Linked DNA regions of Homo sapiens: all the other regions are linked to region 1. The links come from fine-mapping of genetic effects on gene expression. A gene starts in region 1. Each other region holds a variant in brackets. All regions are shown on one strand. Distances are from middle to middle.

What was found. PIP is the estimated chance that this variant, and not a neighbour inherited with it, causes the effect.
Region 2: its variant is fine-mapped to the expression of ECHS1 in blood mononuclear cells (TOPMed, PIP 0.95).
Region 3: its variant is fine-mapped to the expression of ECHS1 in whole blood (TOPMed, PIP above 0.99).
Region 4: its variant is fine-mapped to the expression of ECHS1 in whole blood (TOPMed, PIP 0.96).

What each region holds. Positions count from the first base shown.
Region 1 is chr10:133,370,914-133,376,055 of GRCh38, forward strand. It overlaps ECHS1 (enoyl-CoA hydratase, short chain 1), which reads right to left and starts at 2,441. Exons shown (of 8, transcript NM_004092.4): 1 at 2,333-2,441. The coding sequence starts at 2,420. It overlaps MIR3944 (microRNA 3944), which reads right to left and starts at 750; the gene lies at 643-750. It overlaps LOC124902563 (a long non-coding RNA gene), which reads right to left. Exons shown (of 2, transcript XR_007062395.1): 2 at 3,823-4,293. RefSeq lists a silencer at 2,204-2,713 and an enhancer at 3,095-3,184.
Region 2 is chr10:133,250,262-133,255,403 of GRCh38, forward strand. No RefSeq gene overlaps it. Among named protein-coding and RNA genes, the nearest start is that of MIR202HG, 4.9 kb to the left of the region's middle. The variant G/A (reference allele first, on the strand shown) is at 2,660.
Region 3 is chr10:133,272,975-133,278,116 of GRCh38, forward strand. ADAM8 (ADAM metallopeptidase domain 8) reads right to left here and starts at 3,894. Exons shown (of 23, transcript NM_001109.5): 1 at 3,798-3,894; 2 at 2,510-2,613; 3 at 1,185-1,261; 4 at 977-1,055; 5 at 788-864; 6 at 280-469; 7 at 1-45. The coding sequence starts at 3,843. RefSeq lists enhancers at 1,387-2,036, 2,074-2,333, 3,337-3,984 and a silencer at 3,584-4,143. The variant C/T (reference allele first, on the strand shown) is at 2,263.
Region 4 is chr10:133,394,092-133,399,233 of GRCh38, forward strand. MTG1 (mitochondrial ribosome associated GTPase 1) reads left to right here and starts at 66. Exons shown (of 11, transcript NM_138384.4): 1 at 66-241; 2 at 1,622-1,686; 3 at 2,072-2,176; 4 at 4,344-4,424; 5 at 5,079-5,135. The coding sequence starts at 130. RefSeq lists silencers at 1-207, 268-467 and an enhancer at 792-1,746. The variant C/T (reference allele first, on the strand shown) is at 2,255.

The sequences.
Region 1 (5,142 bases):
CAGCCACAAGGATAGATGGTAGCCTTGGTACCATTCTCTCTGCTTTCACATGTGTTTGAACATGTCCTAAAGAAAATCCCCGGGCCGGGCGCGGTGGCTCACGCCTGTAATCCCAGCAATTTGGGAGGCCGAAGCGGTCGAATCACAAGGTCAGGAGATCGAGACCATCCTGGCTAACACGGTGAAACGCCGTCTCTACCTAAAATACAAAAAATTAGTCGGGTGTTGTGGCGGGCGCCTGTAGTCCCAGCTACTGGGGAGGCTGAGGCAGGAGAGTGGCATGAACCCAGGAGGTGGAGCTTGCAGTGAGCTGAGATCATGCCACTGCACTCCAGCCTGGGTGACAGAGTGAGACTCCGTCTCAAAAAAAAAGAAAAGAAAAAAAGAAAAATCCCCAGCACAGAACACAGCCCACAGCCGCTTTCCTTCTCCTAATATGCCTTGGTCAGCTCTTCCCAGGACACCACTCTGGAGACAGCCCTGGACTCTGCTGAGACAAGGCACCAGGAAACACCTTCTTTCAACAAATGCCAACAGGTGAGGGGGTGTAAGGCAGCTCCTTGCACTTGGTACCGCCCCAGTGCCAAGACCTCTGGCCAACTGGACGCAGGGTGGGGGATGTGAAAATCCTGGGTGTTCCTGCAGCATTAAGATCAGGCACAGGTCCGGAGCAGCAGGCCAGCCCGAAAATGGGAGACGCAGGCGCTTCTCGGTTGGCCTGCTGCACAGGACCTGCGCCTGCTGGGTGGACAGCAAGGTGGGAAGGAGACAAAGGACAATGGCGTTCCAGGGGTGAGAAGGTGAACCTGAAAAGACAAAGGTAGCCTGTGTGTTGGATGCTTGCCTCCGTTAGTGGCAGAGCAGGGATCATAGTCCCTGTGCTATGGGTTTCTTTTTTTTGGAGACCGAGTCTCACTCTATTGCCCAGGCTGGAGTGCAGTGGCGCAATCTTGGCTCACTGCGACCTCTGCCTACAGGGTTCAGGTGATTCTCCTGCCTCAGCCTCCCGAGTAGCTGGGACTACGGTCACACACCACCACACCTGGCTAATTTTTGTATTTTTAGTAGACATGGGGTTTCACCATGTTGGCCAAGGTGGTCTTGATGACCTCAGGTGATCCACCTGCCTCAGCCTCCCAAAGTGCTGGGATTATAGGCATTAGCCACTGTGCCCCGCCGTATCCTGTGGGTTTCTAGGGGTAACTGGAAGATCACAGGTGAAGTGTCTGGCAGCAGTGCCCGCCATGCAAGATCCAGGAAAGGGCTGCTGTCAGGGTGGAGAAGCCGAAGGCCAAGGAGAGCATGGAGATGAAACCAACACAACTCAGTGGTCCACTGCTACACAGGGTGAGGGAGGAAGAGGAAGCAAGAGTTCTTCCCCAGCCCAAGGCATGGCCCAAGATTCCTCAGATACTAGAGCCGGTGATGGCCGCTCATGAGTGGGGCCCCGGGTGAGCCACGAGGGAGGAAGAGGGCAGCCCCCTGTGGCTGGGGAGGAGGTGTCAGCTTTTCCCTTAGGACCCTCTGAGGGGTGGCCCTGGTCAGGAGGCACCCAGGACAAAATGCACCTGCATCTCCTGTTCTCGGGCTGGCCGGCTGCACAGGAGCTACGCCTGCTCTTAGAGCCGAGGGAACACCCCGGATTTTTACAACCCCCACCCTGCGCCCAGTTGGCCAGAGGTCTTGGCACTGGGGCAGTACCAGCCAGCCGCCGGGCCTCCCGCAGGACGTGGCCTGGTGAGAGTGGCCTCCTGCAGAGCCAGGCAGGGGGTGGGGGTGCGGGCCAGGGTCAGGTGGGTGGTGTCGGTGCGGGGTGGCGGGTGGTGGGGGGGTGTTAAGCCTGGGTCAGGCTGTGGGTGCGGGTCAGGTGGGGGGTGCAGCACTAGGCGAGGGGGGTGTTGCAGGCCTGAGCCAGGCAGGGGCTGCGGGTCGGGGTCAGGTGGTAGGTGCGGGGTCAGGCAGGAGAGTGCGGAGTCAGGCCCTGGGGATGCGGGATCGGACGGAAGAGGGGTGCGGGGTCAGGCCGGGGGGTGCGGGGTCAGGTGGGGGGGTGCGGGGTCAGGCGGAGTGGGGTGCGGGTAGGGGTCAGGCCGGAGGGTGCGGGGTCAGGTGGGGGGGTGCGGGGTCAGGCGGGGGGGTGCGGGGTCAGGCGGAGTGGGGTGCGGGTAGGGGTCAGGTGAGGGTGCGGGGTCAGGCGGAAGAGGGGTGTGGGTTGGGGTCAGGTGGGGGATGCGGGGTCAGGTGGGAGGGGGGTGCGGTCTGGGATCTGGTCTGGGCGTGCAGGTCGGAGTCAGGAGGAGATTCGGGCCGCCAGCTCTCACCGCGCACTCACCCGAGGCGAAGGGACGCCAGGCGGGACAGCGAACCGGGGGCCTCAGCGGGCCGCGGACGCAGGACAGCAGGACACGCAGGGCGGCCATGGCTCTCTGGACTCCTCGCCCGGCCCCGCGGAGCCGCCCCCTCGCCTATAGCCTTTCAGGGCTCGCTCCGCCCACAGGCCAGCGCCGCGAGACCAGGCGGCCCTCGCGAGATCAGCCCGGGCAGAGTGAGCGGGTCGCTCTCCGCCAGGCCCCGCCCCCAGGCCCGAGCTGCCGCTCGCGGATCTAAGGCCGAGGGGCGTCCCCGGGACCCCGCCCTGGGCTGGGACCAGCGCCCTCCAGGCCCCGCCGCAGTCGCCCGCGCCCCCGCCCCCGCCCCAGCCCTCGGGGTCCCAGCTGGCCCCGGGGAGACCGCGCGGAGGCGGAGGCAACGGCGGCGCCTGCCGGGCTCTGCGCCGCCTCCCCCCGCCCGCCTGCCCGCCTGCCCGCCTGCCCGCCTGCCCGCCTGCCCGCCTGCCCGCCTGCCCGCCGGCGTCTGTAGCAGCGGACACAGCGCGCCCAGGCGCAGGGCCAGGCACGGTGGCAGCGGCGTGGGCACTGAACGCCACATTAGGAGGAGTTTTATTTTCATGCACACAAGACTTCAACAGATTTAAATAATAAAAATTTCATTCATTTAAGTTATTTTATTTATACCTTTTAAATATCTAGACAAGTATTGTGGAGCATCCATTTGTGTACTTGCCCGGATTCTGCAAACGCCAGGGTGGAGATAAAACCACCCTGGATAAAATGGAATGGAAAGCGAAACTGCTATTGTGACCGGTGGAGGGTGTCCAGGTTCTTGACGTCTTGAACAAAGAACTGGACAAAACGCACAAACAAAGCACGGAAAGAAGGAAGCAACAAAAGCGAGATTTATGGAAAACAAAAGTGTGGCCGGGCGCGGTGGCTCAGGCCTGTAATCCCAGCACTTTGGGAGGCCAAGGCGGGCAGATCACCTGACGTCAGGAGTTTGAGACCAGCCTGGGCAACATGGTGAAACCCCCCTCTCTACTAAAAACACAAAAATTAGCCGGGCGTGGTGGTGCACGCCTGTGGTCTTAGCTACTCGGGAGGCTGACGCAGGAGAATTGCTTGAATCCGGGAGGCGGAGGTTGCAGTGAGCCGAGATCGCACCACTGCCCTCCAGCCTGGGCGATAGAGCCAGACTTCGTCTCAAAAAAGAAACAAGAAAAGACAACGAAAATAACTCCACACTGTGGGAGCGGCTGAGCATAGCGGCTCAAGAGCCCCGTTACAGATTTTTTGGGGGGGTTAAATACCCTCTAGAGGTTTCCATTGGTTACTTGGTGTACGCCCTGTGTAAATGGAGAGGACACTTCTTGTCATAGCGGAAGTGTTTCCATTTGATTTAGTTCTAGGGAGTCAGCATGAATTGGCCTCCAGACCCTGTTCTCCTGCCTCACTATGTTCAAGAAAATAATTCAATTCAAACCAAAAATGAACATGCACCAAAATTTTATTTCAAGACCGAGGGTAAAAATGAAGACATCTCGTGTAAGTAGAAACAAATCAACAACAAACCTCAACAAACCTTTAGTAAACGATGCTCTATACTAGTGTAGTTAAACCTCTGGGACAGACAGGCCCAAAATGAAATGGCTCAGACAGAAAAGAGGTTTATTTCCTTCCTTCCTTCTCCTTCACCTTCTCTTCTTTCCTTTCTTTCTTGTCTCGCTGTCACCCAGGCTGGAGTGCAGTGGTGTCATCCCGGCTCATCATAGCTTGCGCCTCCCGGGTTCAAGCGATTCTCCTGCCTCAGCCTCCTGAGTAGCTGGAACTACGGGTGCTTACCACCATGCCCGGCTAATATTTGTAGTTTTTTAGTAGAGTCGGGAGTTTTGCCATGTTGGCCAGGCTGTTCTCGAACTCCTGACCTCAAGTGATCCACCGGTCTCGGCCTCGCAAAGTGCTGGAATTACAGGAGTGGACCACCGTGTCCGCCAAGAGGTTTCCTTTCTAACGACCCAGGAGGCCGGGCAGCTCCCGTCCTCCATCAAGTAATGTAGCCACAAAAGCACAAGCAACAAAGGGAGAACATATGTAAATTGGATTTCACCAAAATTTAAAACTTTTATGTCTGAAAGGACACTACCAAGATAGTGAGAGGACTGAACAGACATTCCTCCAATGAAGATAATCAGTGTCAGATAAGCTCAGCATCACGAATCATTAGGGAAATGCAAACTGACCCCTCAGTGATACGACGTCACACCTACTGTGCTGGCTGCAATAAAAAGCCCAACAGTCACAGCGGGTTGTGGGGGACGTGAGCGGGGAACGCTGGTACACTGCCAGCGGGAATGGAAAATGGTGCAGTCACTTTGGAAAACAGTCTGTTGTTTCCTCAAAAGGTCAAACAGCAACTCCACTCTTAGGTGTACACCTCAGAGAAATGAAGACAAATGTCCACAAAAACTTAGACATGAACGTTCATAGCAACATTATTCATAATAGCCAAAAAGAGGGAAAAAGCCAATTGTCCATCAACTCATGAATGGATAAACAAAATGTCATATATCCAAACAATGGATACATTAGAATGTATTAGACTATACAATGGACTCTATTCAGGAGTAAAAAAGAAAGAAGCGCTGATACACATTACAAAATGGACAAGCCTTGGAAATGTTATGCTCAGTAAAAAAAGCCAGACACAAAGGCCGTGCATTGAATAGGTTCCATTTCTATGAAATGTACAGAACAGGCAAATCCACAGAGACAGAAACTAGATTAGCGGTCACCAGGGGCTGGAGGGAGG
Region 2 (5,142 bases), 120 kb before region 1:
ACCAACAGACACAGAGAGAGACACAGACAGAGTCAGAGAGAGAGAGAGAGGCAGACACAGAGAGAGACACAGACAGAGACAGAGAGAGAGAGATCAGCAGACACAGAGAGAGACACAGACATAGAGGGACAGAGACAGAGACAGTGGGGAAACAGAGACCAAGAGACAGAGACAGTGGGGAGACAGAGAGAGAGACAGACACAGAGAGACAAAGAGAGAGAGACACGGACAGAGATAGAGAGACACAGTGGGGAGACAGAGACCGAGAGACAAAGACACAGAGACAAAGAGACAAACAAAGAGACAGAGACAGTGGGGAGACAGAGAGTAGGGAGATAGAGACAGAGACACAGAGACAGTGGGGAGACAGAGAGGCAGAGACAGAGAGACACATACAGAGAGAAAGAGCAGGGAGACAGACAGACACACACAGAGAGACACATACAGAGAGACAGAGACAGCGGGGAAGCAGGGAGACAGAGACAGAGAGACACACACAGAGAGACAGAGACAGCAGGGAGGCTCTGGGCTATTCTAGGGCATCGCCCAGTCCCTCACTTGGTTTCCCTAACTTTTTTCTGGATTATAAACCCACACCTGCTGATCAGGAAGACTTTCATCATCCACACGGGTTTAAAGGGGCTTCCAGGGACCGGAGGGTCGGGCTGCGCACAGGTGTGGGGACGGCCACCCTCTGCTGCCTCTGCAGGTGGAGGAGCCCAGGGCCCGTCTTCCTGCTGGCCCCATCGGCTGGAGCCTGGGAGCTGGGGTGACAACTGGGTGGGGGCCCAGACCCCCCTCTGTTTCCCCCTAGGCCTCAAGGAGCCACAGAAGGCTGTGGGCCAGGCAGTGGGCAGAGGGTGGCCGTCCTCACACCTGTGCGCAGCCCGACCCTCCGGTCCCTGGAAGCCCCTTTAAACCCGTGTGGATGATGAAAGTCTTCCTGATCAGCAGGTGTGGGTTTATAATCCAGAAAAAAGTTAGGGAAACCAAGTGAGGGACTGGGCGATGCCCTAGAATAGCCCAGAGCCTCCCTGCTGTCTCTGTCTCTCTGTGTGTGTCTCTCTGTCTCTGTCTCCCTGCTTCCCCGCTGTCTCTGTCTCTCTGTCTTGTGCTGTCTTGGGCTCGGGCTGCCGGGTGGAACTGGTCAGAGGGGCGGCAGCCGAGGGACCAGGTGTCAGTGTCGCCTGGCCATCCTGGCTACGAGCCCTGGAGGTCCTGAGACCCCTCAGGGGATTCTGTGAGGTGACGGGAGGGACTCAGAGCAAACCCCAGCCCCTGAGGGCCGAGGGACCACCCGCAGGTGGACCCCAGGCTTCCCGACAGGCACACCCCACACACCTGCCCCCGTCCCGAGCTCCCTGTGGCTCCCCAGTGCTTTGAATGAAACCCAGCCTGTGAGCAGGAGGACAGGGACCCACCTCACCCACTGGAGGCCGCACAGCCTGGCTCCCACCCATCCTGGGGACCTCCTGCCGGAGATTTGCAGAGTAGGGGTGGAAGGGCCTGAAAGCAGAGGAGCCCCACCCGGGCATCCTTCCCACCATCCCGGGGCCTCCTGCTGCACCGCCAACCCCGAGAAGGCCTCAGCAGTCCAGCCAGCACCAGCCGGGGACTGTGTCCTGGTCCTTCCCCCATCAGCAGGGGTCAGGATGACCACCTGGGCAGGGGCCCTGCTGTGGGTCCAGACACTCCCTGGGTGCCTCAGACCCCAATAGCAGCCCCTCCACACCAAACACACCGGCCACCCTCCCTCCCTCCACCAGAAACAGAAAGGATCTCTGTGGGTCTGGCAGACGTGCTTGGCACGGAGCTGGCGGTGATAACGGGTGGCCTTCAGGCGGCTCCACTCCCTCCATTCCATTCCTTGTGGGGCCCGGTGGAGGCGGGTGGCGGGGGTGTCCCTGCAGCTGTCTCTGGCCAAAGGCAGCCCACTGTTAACCCTTGGTGGACTCTCCCTGCTGAAGTTCCCAAAGAGGGTGGCCTGCTCCTCCTGCATCGCATGTGGAGACCTCAGTCTACACTGGCCACACCCTGAGGCTGGGCCCAACCCTGCCCAGCAGCCCGTCCTGCCCCACACCTCATCTTGCCCTATCCCACCCTGCACCCCACCGTGCCCCGCTCTGCACCCCGGCCCGCCCTGCACCCCATCCCTCCCTGCACCCCAGCCCGCCCTGCACCCCGCCCCACCCTGCACCCCAGCCCACCCTGCACCCCGGCCCGCCCTGCACCCTATCCCTCCCTGCACCCCAGCTCTCCCTGCACCCCGTCCTGCCCTGCACCCCGTCCTGCCCTGTACCCCATCCCTCTCTGCACCCTGTCCTGCCCTGCACCCTGTCCCACTCTGCTCCTGACCCTGCCCTGCAGCCCCCACCCCATAGGTCCAGTGTCCCGGGAGTCAGCACTTCCCTCAGGTTATGTGCTGGTCCCACCGACCCCTGAGTTGCAGGCCGGGCGATGTCAATGGCTACCCCAGAGAAGCAGCCGAGGCCTAGAGCAAAGCTGACCGCTCCTGGACTCAGTTTCCCCACCTGTCAAAGGAGGTGCTGGAAATAGAGTTCCCTCGGAGATGGACAGAGTCTTACAAATGAAACCTGTGTCCACCGTGTGACCTGGCAATTCCACTCCTAAGCATTTACAAAGAGGAATGAAATCATCC[G/A]TCCCCAGAAAGACTTCAATAAGAACATTCTGGGACGGGTGCGGTGGGTGGCTCACGCCTGTAATCCCAACACTTTGGGAGCCTGAGGCAGGAGGATTGATTGAGCCCAGGAGTTTGAGACCAGCCTGGGAAACATGGTGAGACCTTGTCTCTACAAAAAATTAAAAAATAAACTAGTTGTGTGTGGTGGATGCACCTGTGGTCCCAACTATGCGAGACTCTGAGGCGGGAGGATCATCTGACCCAGGAGTTCGAGGCTGCAGTGAGCTGTGATGGTCCAAGGCACTCCAGCCTGGGTGACAGAGCGAGGCCCTGTCTCAAAAAAAAAAAAAGAAGGCTGGGCATGGTGGCTCACGCCTGTAATCCCAGCACTTTGGGAGTCTGAGGCAGGCAGATCACCTGAGGTCGGGAGTTCGAGACCAGCCTGACAGCCTGACCAACATGGAGAAACCCCGTCTCTACTAAAAATACAAAATTAGCCAGGCGTGGTAGTGGGCACCTGTAATCCCAGCTACTCGGGAGGCTGGGGCAGGAGAATCGCTTGAAACCGGGAGACAGAGGTTGCGGTGAGCCGGGATTGCGCCATTGCACTCCAGTCTGGGTAACAAGAGTGAAACTCCATATAAAAAAAAAAAGAAGAAGAAGAGAAGGAGAAGGAGAAGGAGAAGGTCTTCAAACAGGAACCACTCCAAGTCCCCAAGTCTCCTTCATCCACACAGAAATGGATAAAAAATCATGATGACTGTACAAGAAAGAAGCAGACACACAGGGTCTCGGGCCTCCCCAGAGCAGGCCAAACCACGTGGGGTGACAGGGCCCCCCCGGTAGAATGTTCCGTGGCCTGAGGATGAGGTAGTTACGCACTGGACGCATTTGCCAGAGCCCTGGGCTTGTGCACTTGAGACTGTTTATTCCGCAAAAAATAAATAAAATAGAAATAAAACTTGGGGCTGTGCGGCGGAGCCGTGGGGGTGCCCGCTCTGCGGTGGTCGGCTGACCCTGGGATGCCCTGGTCAGAATAACACGGGGCCCAGGGTCAGATGTGCGTCTCGGAAGAACACGGACCATTTCTTAGGATAAATATGTCCCATGAAATATTTAGGATGCATTCACACTGTAAGTTTTCATTGTTTCACTGAAATTTGAATTAATTGTGTGTCCTGAATTTTTACTTGCTACGTCTGGTGGCCCCACACCGAGTTTATGGAGAGGGCATGAGCTTGGAGCAGTGACCAGGACCCAGGTCGGTTCGTCTGTCTTCAGGGGGCTCCCGGGATCCAGGTCAGACTGAGGACCTGAGGCGTGCTGGGGCTGCCCCAGATCATGTGTGGAGGGCAGTGCAGCTGAGTGACCGGGCCCTGAGGCTCCTGAGGCTCTGGGACCCCATGGGATGTCCCCTTGGGAGCCAGGCCCTGGAATCTGTGCTCCAGGCCGGCTGTAGGGGAGATGGAGGGCTGGGCCTGTGCCCAGAGGCTGATCACCGCCTGGCTCCTGGCAGGGTCTGGGATGGTCTCAAGGGGCTGGTGGGCCAGGGGCTCAGCTGAGCCACCATAGGCAGCCCCCAGCCCCGGAGGGAGAGGGAAGCAAAGAGTTAATCCCCGGCCCTGGGAGAGCCCTGCCCTAAGCTCAGGGCTGGCGTTTCAAGGCTGCGTGTCTGTGACTCCCTCAGAGGAGATAATCACGGCTTCTTGATATTTTCTTTCTCTTCTCCTGTGCACACCCACATATCAGGAGCACTCGCTGGGCCATGAGAACTTTCCTCTGCCCTCCAAGGCCACGGCGGGCGGAAGGGGCCAAAGCCATTTTGTCCAGGAGCCTTTGTCCCCTGGGATTGCCTGGCCAGGAGCTGGGGCCACCGGGCTGGACCCCGTGTCTCATGTGCACACGTGCCACCCAACACACACACCACACATGTACACACTACACATATATATACACACCCCACACACCACACACCTACACACCACACACATACACACCACAAATACACACCCCACACACCACACATGTGCACACCACATATATATACACATCCCACCTGTACACACCACACATGTACACACCACATATATACATACCCCACACACCACACCACATGTAGACACACACCACACACATATACACGTCACATGATGTGTTTAGTACTACACACACACACCCCACACTCATACAAAGCACACTACATGCACACACACACACTTGCAGAGCCTACCCCTTTCTCCACCACCTGGGTCTGGACCCCACACTCGGCCCAGGTCCCAGTCCCAGGTCTCAAGCCCTTGTGTGGTCACTGCCGTCCGCTGCCAGGGGCTGGGGGTCTTTCTCACTGAGGACAGGGCTGAGCTCCCCCAGGCTGAGGAGGGCTCTGCCACCTCCAACCCCCGCTGAGCGGCTGCAGTCCCTGCTCAGTCTCCTTGGGTCCTTGGTGCCCCGAGCCGATGCCGGGGCTGACCCTCAGCAGCCCCAGTTAGGCTGGCCTCAGT
Region 3 (5,142 bases), 98 kb before region 1:
CACATACAGCTCCACGTAGCGGGTCTCTCGGGATGGCAGAGAGTCCTGGGGAACAGCCACAAGAAGCCAGTCAGCCTTCCCAGCGCCGGGGCCTGGACCCTCCCTCAGGGACCCGGGGCCACTGTCCAGCCCCTGTCCAGTGCTGGGGGAGCGTGGCCAGGCCTGCTCCAGGCTGCAGACAATGGGCAGCACCCAGCACATGGGGAGCCAGGAGGACTCACAGGCCAGGCAAGTGGACACCGGCAGGGCCAGCCAAACACAGGAGACAAGGGTGCTCACCCCGGGCCGAGGCCTGAAGACGGCTGCCGTCCGGGGTCCCAGGAGGCTGCCCAGGCTGTCGTCGCTGACCCCGCAGGTCCCGGCCGTCTGCAGCAGGTGCTCAGCCTGGTACACGGCGTGCCGTCCGCCCTCGCCACCTTCATCCAGGGGCTCGATCAGGTGCAGGTCTGACCCCACCTGGAAGAAACCCCTGAGGGGAGTGGGAGCCGGGTGTGCTGTGGGCTTCAGAGTGGCCTGGTCCTGCCCCGAAGGACCAGAGGCTCCAGTTTGTTGCCTACAGCTCCCCCTACCCTGCCACCAGCAGCCCCCCGCAGGTGACTTCAGGCCCCAGGGTACAGGAGGGTGAGCCTCTTGGGCTTGGCGTCCCCTGAGCAGACCCCCATGCAAGACAGCAAAGGCCTGAGTGGGAGGAGGAGGCACCCTCCCTGCCTCCCTTCCCCACCCCCACCACAGGCTTAGGCCTTCCTCTCCACCTGCGGGAGCCCTGGCGTTCGTCCGCCACACCCACCTGAGGCCGGCACAGGTGCTGAGGCTGGCGGCTGAGTCCGGGTACCCCTCTACGTGGCCCTGGTAGAAGCAGTGGTCCTGCGGGGGAAGCAGGAGAGGGGTCCACAGGCTGTGCCCCCATGGCCCCACAGGCTCGGGGAGGGCCGCCCAGCCCCTACCTGCCCGCCCAGCTGCTCCGCCCGACCCATACCTGCCCGCGAGGCTGCTCCGTCACCTCGGAGCCATTGGCAGCCGTATAGGTCTCTGTGTAGCCGGAGCCCAGCAGGTCCCTGGAAAAGAAGTGCTGTGACTGCCTCGGCCCCCTCGGTGCAGAGAGGCTGGCCCAGAGGCTGGACGCCGGGGACACCAGTGTGCTGGAGCCAGGCCCGGGCAGGGGGGCCGACCCGAGACCCACTCACCTGTTCTTCCGCAGGTGGAGGGTGAAGTTGTGCCCTGTGGCCCCAAGGACGTAGCTCACCCTCTCTGGGTGCAGGCCCTGAGCGAGGAGGGAAGGGTCCCAGGTGAGCAGCCTGCCCGGGCTGTGCCCACCTCAATCCTGGGGGCCAGAGAAGCTCAGCTGGGGGGGAAGGGGTGCCGGCCTCCAGCCCCAGGTCAAGGCTCCATCCTGGAGGGTCCACAGCCTCAGGCAGGGTAGAGGGTGGAGGGTGGAGGGTAGGGGGCAGGGGGTGGGGGGTGGAAGGTGGAGGGTGGAGAGTGGAGGGTGGAGGGTGGAGGCGGGGGGCGGAGGGCAGAGGGTGGGGGGCGGGGGGTGGAGGGTGGAGGGTAGGGAACGGGGCTGTGCTGAAGGCGACCGGCGGAGCCCAGCACTTGGGTAGACAGGAAGGACACGGTGCTCCTCGGTCCTCCCAGGCCTCAGTTTCCCCATCTGACCACGCATGGGTAACGACAATGCCCCTTCCCCGAGAAAGCATAGGGTGGGGGAGGCATAGCCTCAGCCAGGCAGCAAAGGAGGTGGGTGGCGGGGATAGCACGCACAGGCCCCTCCAGCGACAGCTGCCTGCCTCCAGGACCCATCCCTTCCAGCAGCTGCCGGACCTGGTGGTGCCTGCAGAGCCTCCTGCTGGACCACTGCATCTCCAGCCCCCATGTGCAGGCTGGGGCTCGGCCTGCAGAGCTCTGGGACAGCCTTAGCTGTGCCACCGGCTGGATGAGCCCAGGGCAGCGGGCAGGTCGGTAGTAGGTTCCCCGGATGCTGAGGTAAGGACAGGGCTGGGGCCGGAACTGCCCTCCCTGGAAACAGGTGCACACATGCATATGCCGTGCACATGTGTGCACACCCACCCACTCAGGCTTCAGGAATCACCCTCGGGCAGCCCCAGTCGGGGAGGGGGGCATTCTCAGTTTCTAGCCCTGGGAAACCCCCGCCAGGCCCCCCCCCCAACACAGGAAGGTGTGTCAACTCTGCGGTGAGCCAGCGTCACTTCTCAAAGAGGAATTTGGCTTATCAGCCTCGCCAAGTGAAACTGGGGAGGGGCC[C/T]GGGGCCAGCACAACCTGCCCCTGCTCCCTTCCAGGGGTCCATAGAGCTCCTGAAGGAACGAGGAGGCTGGGAGCCCTCAGGCAGTGCTGGAGGGAGGAACGGAGATGGGCCCCAGGGGGCTAGAGCTGTACAGGGCAGCCCCAGACACCCACTGGCCTCTCACCACTTTCTGTAAGCTAAAGCTCCTTTCACAAAAATAGGCTCAGGGGCCAGCCAGGGACCCTCCCCAGGCCAGCTTAGACTCACCAAGTGGGAGGGCAGAGCTCGGCGGACTCGGGGGCCTGGCAGACGCCACGGCAACACGACCTCATACTGCTCCATGAGGGCCCAGGGCCGGCTGGGGGCAATCGCTGCAGGAGGGAGGGTCAGCAGGCATGAGGGGCCGGGGGGCAGGTTTCCTTCCCAGAGGCCTCCTGGGCCCTCAGATTCTGTCTCTTGCTGGGCTTGACCCTCCCCTGGGGAACTCACCAGATAGCTCTGGGACAAAGACTCAAGTGAGGGTTCTGTGCCTAAAAGACCCCAGGAGCGCCCCCAGGCATGGCCGGTGGGCCTGTGTCCTGCAGCACCCACACACAGTGCTCAGAGACGCTGTGGGTGCCAGCGGGTGCCAGTGACTCCACAGGTCTCCAGGCTGTCTCAGATCTCTGGAGGGGCCCGAGGGCAAGGATGAACCTTCCCCCCAGGGAGGAGGACTCGGGCCGCCGACCTGCCCGTTTCCATTCTCCTCCTCCATTCTTCTGATCATCTGATCGCATCTAACTGGGGAGCAGGAAGTGCCTCCCGGAGGCTGTTCACCTCCCAAGAACTGGAAACTCCCTGGTATCCGAGAGCAGAGGGCAGGGTCCCAGCATGCAATGGGCAGGGTTTCGGAGACCACCAACCCCAGGACCCTTTGCTCCCATTAAAACACAATAGTGGACGTGTCTCCATGACCACATCTCCAACCTGGAGAGGCAGCAGGGGAGCAGCCAGCCCCTATCTGCCCAGGAAACTGGCGGGAAGCAACCCGGCCTCCAGCCTGAAGCTCCTCAGCACACCCCAGCCCAAGTCACTCCAGGAGCAGGGGTGGGATCCAGGGTCAGCAGCCCCATGTCCTCCCCCAGGCAGGAGACGGGTCCCCTCAGCCCACACCCCTGCACTCCAGGCCTCAGCTTGTCTGCCCTCCCTTCCCTCCTCGGCTAAATAGTGGGGGTGGGTAGCCCCACAGGTGAATCCCAGGAACCCAGGGCGCCTCGCGCAGCAGGTGAAGCGTCCTGCTTGGCCCGGCCCCGACCCCACTAACAAGCTCAGAGGCGGGACTTCCCTCTCACAGTTCACCTTTGAAGGTTCCCTCCGACCTCCCCGGCCTCCCCGGCCCGGGGCTCTCCACCCAGAGACCACTGTGCACCTGATGGCCCGCTCCCAGGGACCAGCCCGAAGCCGGGCCAGGGTGCGGGGTGCGAGCAGGCCAGGGGCTCGGGGTCCGCGTCGCGTCCTGCGGGGAGAGCCACCCTGCCCCGCGCTGCGCCCGGGACGGTTCCCTGGAACCACTCACCAGGCAGCATCATCGCGCCCAGCAGCCAGAGCCCGAGGCCGCGCATGGCCGGGTCGGGGAGCAGAGGCGGAGGTGACAGCCCCGCGGGACACGGTCTGGTTCCTGCGCTCCTGGCCCGAGGCTCTTTTCCGCGCGCCCCGCCCCGGCGCCCCGCAGCCAATGGGCCCCTCGGCCGGTGGGAGGGGCGGGGCGCGCGGCACCTGGGGGCGGGGTCCGTTTCCCCTCTCCCCACAATCCAGCATCCTCCCTTGCACAGGTGAGGAAACTCAGGCACAGCCTGTCCCAAGTCCGGCCAGAGCCCCGAGAGGGGGCCTCTCGAAGGACCCGGCGGCTGGAAGGAGGTGGCGCCAGGCAGGTCCTGGAGGGGAAGGGACTTGTGAGGGCCGCCTGGCGGTTTCAGGAGAGGGGGTCTCTGATTTCCTGGGGAACAGAAAGCCTCAGGCAGGGGCAAGTCATGGCTTTGTGGGCATAGGTTCAGCCCTGTGGGAAGCTCTGCCACCCTCCCCCCCAAGCCTGCGCCCCCTCCACCAGGCTGAGGCCTCACCGGAGTGGGATAGGCATGGGCCCGCAGGCGTCCAAGTGGGGAGGGGGAGCCCTAGGTGGGGGTCCCAGCCCAGGTGATGGCAGGTGCAGGGGCCGTCCCTAGCCTAAGATCCCCAGACAGCAGCTGACGCTGGCCGACGTGGACCAAAGCCTGCAGCAGCCCACCGTGGCCTGGCTCCGGCGTCTCCAGGCCTGCGGCCAAGCGTGCTTGCCCTTGGTGACCACATTCCCCGTGGTGGGCTCAGCCTCGAGGGTGCAGGTTTGGGCTGACACCACAGCTCCCCAGACGGTCCACCCAGGACCCCTCCCTGGGGCTTTCACAGCCAGGCCGCCCTCCTGGAGTGGGAACAGTGGTGGTGGCAGGAAAGGCAGCTCAGATGACCACACAGGGCGCTGCTGACAGATCACATGGGGGGGGGGGGCCTCAGGGCCTCCCTGGGGAGAGGCAGGGCAGGGCCAGCAAGGGGCTGGAGGGAGTCCTGCCTGGAGAGAGGGCACCAGGGCAGGGCGAGTCAGGGAACTGCACGGGCCTAGGGGCAGAGGACAGAGGTCAAGGGGCAGTGGCAAGAAGAGGCCGGGGCCTCGGACGTTATCCTGGGAGGACAGGGAACCCGGAGGATCTAAGCTGGCGTGAGTGATGCTGTCACATTTTGTCTCAAAGCCATTCTTACCCTAATGTGAATGGCATGAAAAGCAAGAAAGCAAGGGCTGGCACTGGGCCGCAGGTGACTTCTGCTGCCTGGGGGTGTGTCCGCTTGCCTGTGTGGCACAGGACGAGGTCCCCCAGGCTGCCGAGAGGCTC
Region 4 (5,142 bases), 23 kb after region 1:
CCGTGGTGCGGCCCCTTGGAGCGCCGGAAGCCCGCAGTGCCGGAGGCCCGCAGCGCCGGAACCTCAGAGGCGGGTCGCAGCGGCGCAGAGGAGGTCAGCTGCGGGAGCGTTTCCGGGGACGGTGCCGCCATGAGATTGACCCCGCGCGCGCTGTGCAGCGCCGCCCAGGCCGCCTGGCGGGAGAACTTCCCCCTGTGCGGTCGCGACGTGGCGCGCTGGTTCCCGGGCCACATGGCCAAGGGTGAGGCACGGCGGGGAGGGGCAAGGTCATGCCTACGGCCGCGGCGCCTCTGCTTCCCTCCCACCCCGGTTTCGGCCGTCGCCTGCTTCTCCCGGTCGTTCTGGGCTGGCCCCGCCCCTCCTCCCTTGTCTCCCCTCCTTCCCCGCTCTCACCCGCTCCCGGAGCCGCCGGGACCCCTTCCCCTGCGCAGCTGCGGGAGAGGCCCGTTCCCGCGAGTGCCCCCGCGGCGCAGCCTCGGACCCAGGGCCTGCTTGACCTCCTACCTCTGGCCCGCCGCCCCTGTCCTCTGTTCCCAGCAAGTTCCTTCTGCCCTTTTAATCCCCCGAAGCCTCCGTTTCCACATGTTCTTGACAAGATAGACTTTTCTGAGTCTTTTGGGGACTAAATGAAACAGTGGGTATGAAGGCACCTGTTCAGTTTTAACTGGTATCTTGAGTCGTTCTCCTGCTTAACGTCTTTGGTAATTCTTACTGTTTGTCACAATTCGGCCCCAAGAAGACCTCTGGGGCCAGCCCAGCCCGTCTAGGTGTTGTGATGGCCACTCCTGCGTCGGCTCCGCGTGTACTGGGGGCCGAGGGGGAAGAAGGGCCCGTGTGGGTGACTGAGGCTGTGTCCTCGGTCTTCGGATAACACTGGAGGGGAAGAAAGCTGGAAGCTTTGTTATCTTGGTTGTGTGTGGTATTCCTGGTTAGGGGACTATCGTCATCATCCCCGCGAGGTAGCAGGGGCCTAATGAGCCAGTGTTACTCTGTGTTATAGCCCAGATTAAGACCCGTGGAAGGGCCCGGCCCGGTGGCTCACGCTTGTAATCCCAGTACTTTGGGAGGCCGAGGTGGGCAGATCACGAGGTCAGGACATCGAGACTATCCTGGCCAGCATGGTGAAACCGTGTCTCTACTAAAAATACAAAAAATTAGCCCGGCATGGTGGCGCGTCCCTGTAGTCCCAGCTACTCGGGAGGCTGAGGCAGGAGAATTGCTTGAACCTGGCAGGCGGAGGTTGCAGTGAGCCGAGATCGTGCCACTGCACTCCAGCCTGGGTGACAGAGCAAGACTCCGTCTCAGAAAACAAAAAAGCGACCCATGCACGTTAAATATTCCACCCAGAGTCAGCCATGAGTCAGGTGGTGAAGACCGCATCTGGCTTTTGACACATGGCCCACCCTGTGGCAGGGTGCCTCCCAGTCTCCCACTCCGAGGGTGCGGACCTTGGAGGAGGCGCTCAGCGGATGTTATCTGTTACCATTACTTAGTACGCTTCCCTCAGATATAGTCTTTTTAGGTTATTTATGGTGGCGTGTCATTCTGGACGGTTCAGCTTGAATCGATCACTCTAGAAAGGTTGTGAGCCCCTTCGCTGAGGCGTCCTTCTGTTTTCCAGGGCTGAAGAAGATGCAGAGCAGCCTGAAGCTGGTGGACTGTATCATCGAGGTCCACGATGCCCGGATATCCTTTCACAGAGCAGGGGAGGCCCCTCTGCCTGAAGTCATATTACACATTAGAATTACCTGGGGAGGCTTTTAAAAATATGAATTGCGAGGCCCCTTTCTAGACCAGTTAATCAGAATCTGTGATGTGGGGTCCAGACTGCGTGTCTTTGAAACTTCATTGTTAATACATATATCTGCGTCACTCAAGCCTGACGGTACGGTGCAGCAGTGGAATCCTCTAGATGGGCTATGAAACTGTTTAAATGTTCCTGCCAACTGGGGCTTTTCTCCTGTACTTGAGGAATGAATTGGCAGGATGTGATGATTCGTTCACTGATGGCAAGAAAAAAAGTTGGTTGGCTGGTAAAGCTTTGGAGGAATTTTTACCTTAATTTTGCCACATCCCACTTTCAGGCCGCAACCCTCTGTTTCAGGAAACCCTTGGGCTTAAGCCTCACTTGCTGGTCCTCAACAAGATGGACTTGGCGGATCTTACAGAGCAGCAGGTAAAGGCCTTTCTCTCAGACGCCTTCAGCAGTGTGGCTGTGTTTTCCCGAGGTCGCTTGTTCTAACGGAAGAGTTGC[C/T]GGACGCACACTTGTCAGTTTGCCCAGGCAGGCTCTGCTTTAGAAACAGCCCTTTGCTTTGCAGAAGCGTGCCAGCATCGTTTCTCATATGGCGTGCCCCCATCTAATGTGTGGTTCGTGACCTGGACACCCAGGGAGTGCACGTCTCCTGTGGGAAGTGGCCAGGTTGTGCTGCCAGAGCCCGAGTGGTCAGTGAGTGCGCATTGTGGGCAGCAAGCCACCCAGGTGCCGAGGCAAGAGACCGAGGACACGAGCTTTTCCAGTGTAATAAAACATATGAAATAAGAATAGTTATACTAGATATAGGTCATAGATATGATTGTATATGAATATTACTAATCATTAGTTTGTAGCAATTACTCTTCATTCCAATATTATTATAATTCTTGCTCTATAATCATAACCTAGGAAAAACCAGGCCATACAGAGATAGGAGCTGAGGGGACATAGTGAGACGTGACAAGTGTGTGAGCCTTCTGTTATGCCCAGACAGGGCCACCAGAGGACTCCTTGGTCTAGCGGTAACGCCAGTGTCTGGGAAGACGCCCGTTGCCAAGCCGACTGTGGTCTAGCGGTAGCGTCAGTGTCAAGGAAAAGCACCCGCTACTTAGCAGACCGGGAAAGGGAGTCTCCCTTTCCCCAGGGGAGTTTAGAGAAGACTCTACTCCTCCACCTCTTGTGGAGGACCTGACATCAGTCAGGCCTGCCCGCAGTTATCCGGAGGCTTAACTGTCTCCCTGTGATGCTGTGCTTCAGTGGTCACGCTCCTAGTCCGCCTTGATGTTCCATCTTGTACACCTGGCTCTGTCTTTTAGATAGCAGTAGCAAAATTAGTGAAAGTACCGAAAGTCTCTGATAAGCAGAAATAATGGCGTAAGCTGTCTCTCTTTCTCCCTCTCTCTCTGCCTTGGCTGCCAGGCAGGGAAGGGCCCCTTGTCCAGTGGACACATGACCCACGTGACCTTACCTGTCATTGGAGATGGCTCACACTCCTTACCCTGCCCCTTTTGCTTTGTATCCAATAAATATTAGTGCAGCCAGACATTTGGGGCCACTACCGGTCTCTGCATCTTGGTGGTAGTGGTCCCCCAGGCACAGCTGTCTTTTCTTTTATCTCTTTGTCTTGTGTCTTATTTTCTTTTTTTTTTTTTGAGGCAGAGTCTTGCTCTGTCGCCCAGGCTGGAGTGCAGTGGCGCAATCTTGACTCACTGCAAGCTCTGCCTCCCGGGTTCACGCCATTCTCCTGCCTCAGCCTCCTGAGCAGCCGGGACTACAGGCGCCCGCCACCATGCCCGGCTAATTTTTTGTATCTTTAGTAGAGACGGGGTTTCACTGTGTTAGCCAGGATGGTCTCAATCTCCTGACCTCATGATCCGCCCGCCTCGGCCTCCCAAAGTGCTGGTATTACAGGCGTGAGTCACTGCGTCCAGCCTGTTTTTTTTTTTTTTTTAAATCATCGCAAGTGTTTTCACTAGTTGGTACTTTTACGTCATATCAGTGGCAACTCCTGCCTTTGAAAATGTGACTTTTTGTAGACTGGTGGGTGGCCGTCTAGTATAGGGCACAGCAGTGTCTGACCTGGTCAGAGAAAGGCCAGTGCTTCTGAAGAATCGGGAGAGAGGTAGACTTGCCCCTGGGTGGCCCTGCCTTCTGCCTCCCTGAGCAGGGACACCCAAGTACATTTACTACCCAGAGTGTGTGGCTTCAGGTGTGTGTCTTATGTTTGATCTCTCCATCCGTGTCATCTTCGTGGACAGCTAAATAAAACCAGCTGAATCAGTGAAGGACTTGTTGATTTAAACATCAGTCATACTTTAGGTCAGATGATTAACAGCACTGATGTTTAGAAATATGATACTGCTTTGCACTAGTTTCACTGCATGTTAAGGCCAGTGAATTCAAAAATTATCTGGGCGTGGTGGCGCATGCCTGTAATCCCTGCTACTTGGGAGGCTGAGGCATGAGAATCGCTTGAACCAGGGAGGCGGAGGTTGCAGGGAGCCGAGATTGTGCTACTGCACTCCAGCCTGGGTGACAGAGCCAAGACTCCAGTAAAAAAAGTAACATAGAAATGTTTTGTGTCTTTCAGAAAATTATGCAACACTTAGAAGGAGAAGGCCTAAAAAATGTCATTTTTACCAACTGTGTAAAGGATGAAAATGTCAAGCAGGTAGGCTTTTCGTCTGTGCTCTCTCTGACGCTTCTGCTTCAGTAGGTTCGAGGAGCATTATAAACTGTTTTATGCTTTAGTAAGAAGCAGAGCTTTGGAAAAGATCCTAGGTGTTGGTTTCCAGCTGCCACACACGGATGCGATCTCCTGGGGCAAGTGGGTCTCCCTGTACTGAGGGCACAAGGTCAGGCTGTAGACGCATTCCAGGGTTGTAGGTGGTCAGAGTCTTTTGGAGACTCAGGTAGCTCATGTTTCCAGTTGTATGTGGTAGAATTTTCTGGCTTGATGTGTTTCTTCATTAAAAGGTAGTTACAGCTGTCACTGAAGCCCCGGGTCTGCCCTGCTTGTTTTTGATGGGAGGGGACGGGCATAGGTGGTCCCCGGCCCCAGAGCTCAGTCTGACATCTGTGACCTGGACAGAACTCCAGTTTCCCAACACCGGATACTTGGTGTGCTACCTCCAGATGAAGGGTGACGCCCAGTTTGCCTATGAAATGTTGGGTAGAATTCCAGATAGGAGGTTTCTGTTTTCCTAACGGATATGTGAAAGTGGAGACACTGGAATCCCTAATCCTGTTCTGAGGTGGCAGAAGGAGCGGGTCAGTGCACAGACGTCCGACCTGGGGTGGCTCCATGAGTGGGTGTTTGTTGCAGATCATCCCGATGGTCACTGAACTGATTGGGAGAAGCCACCGCTACCACCGAAAAGAGGTTGGTT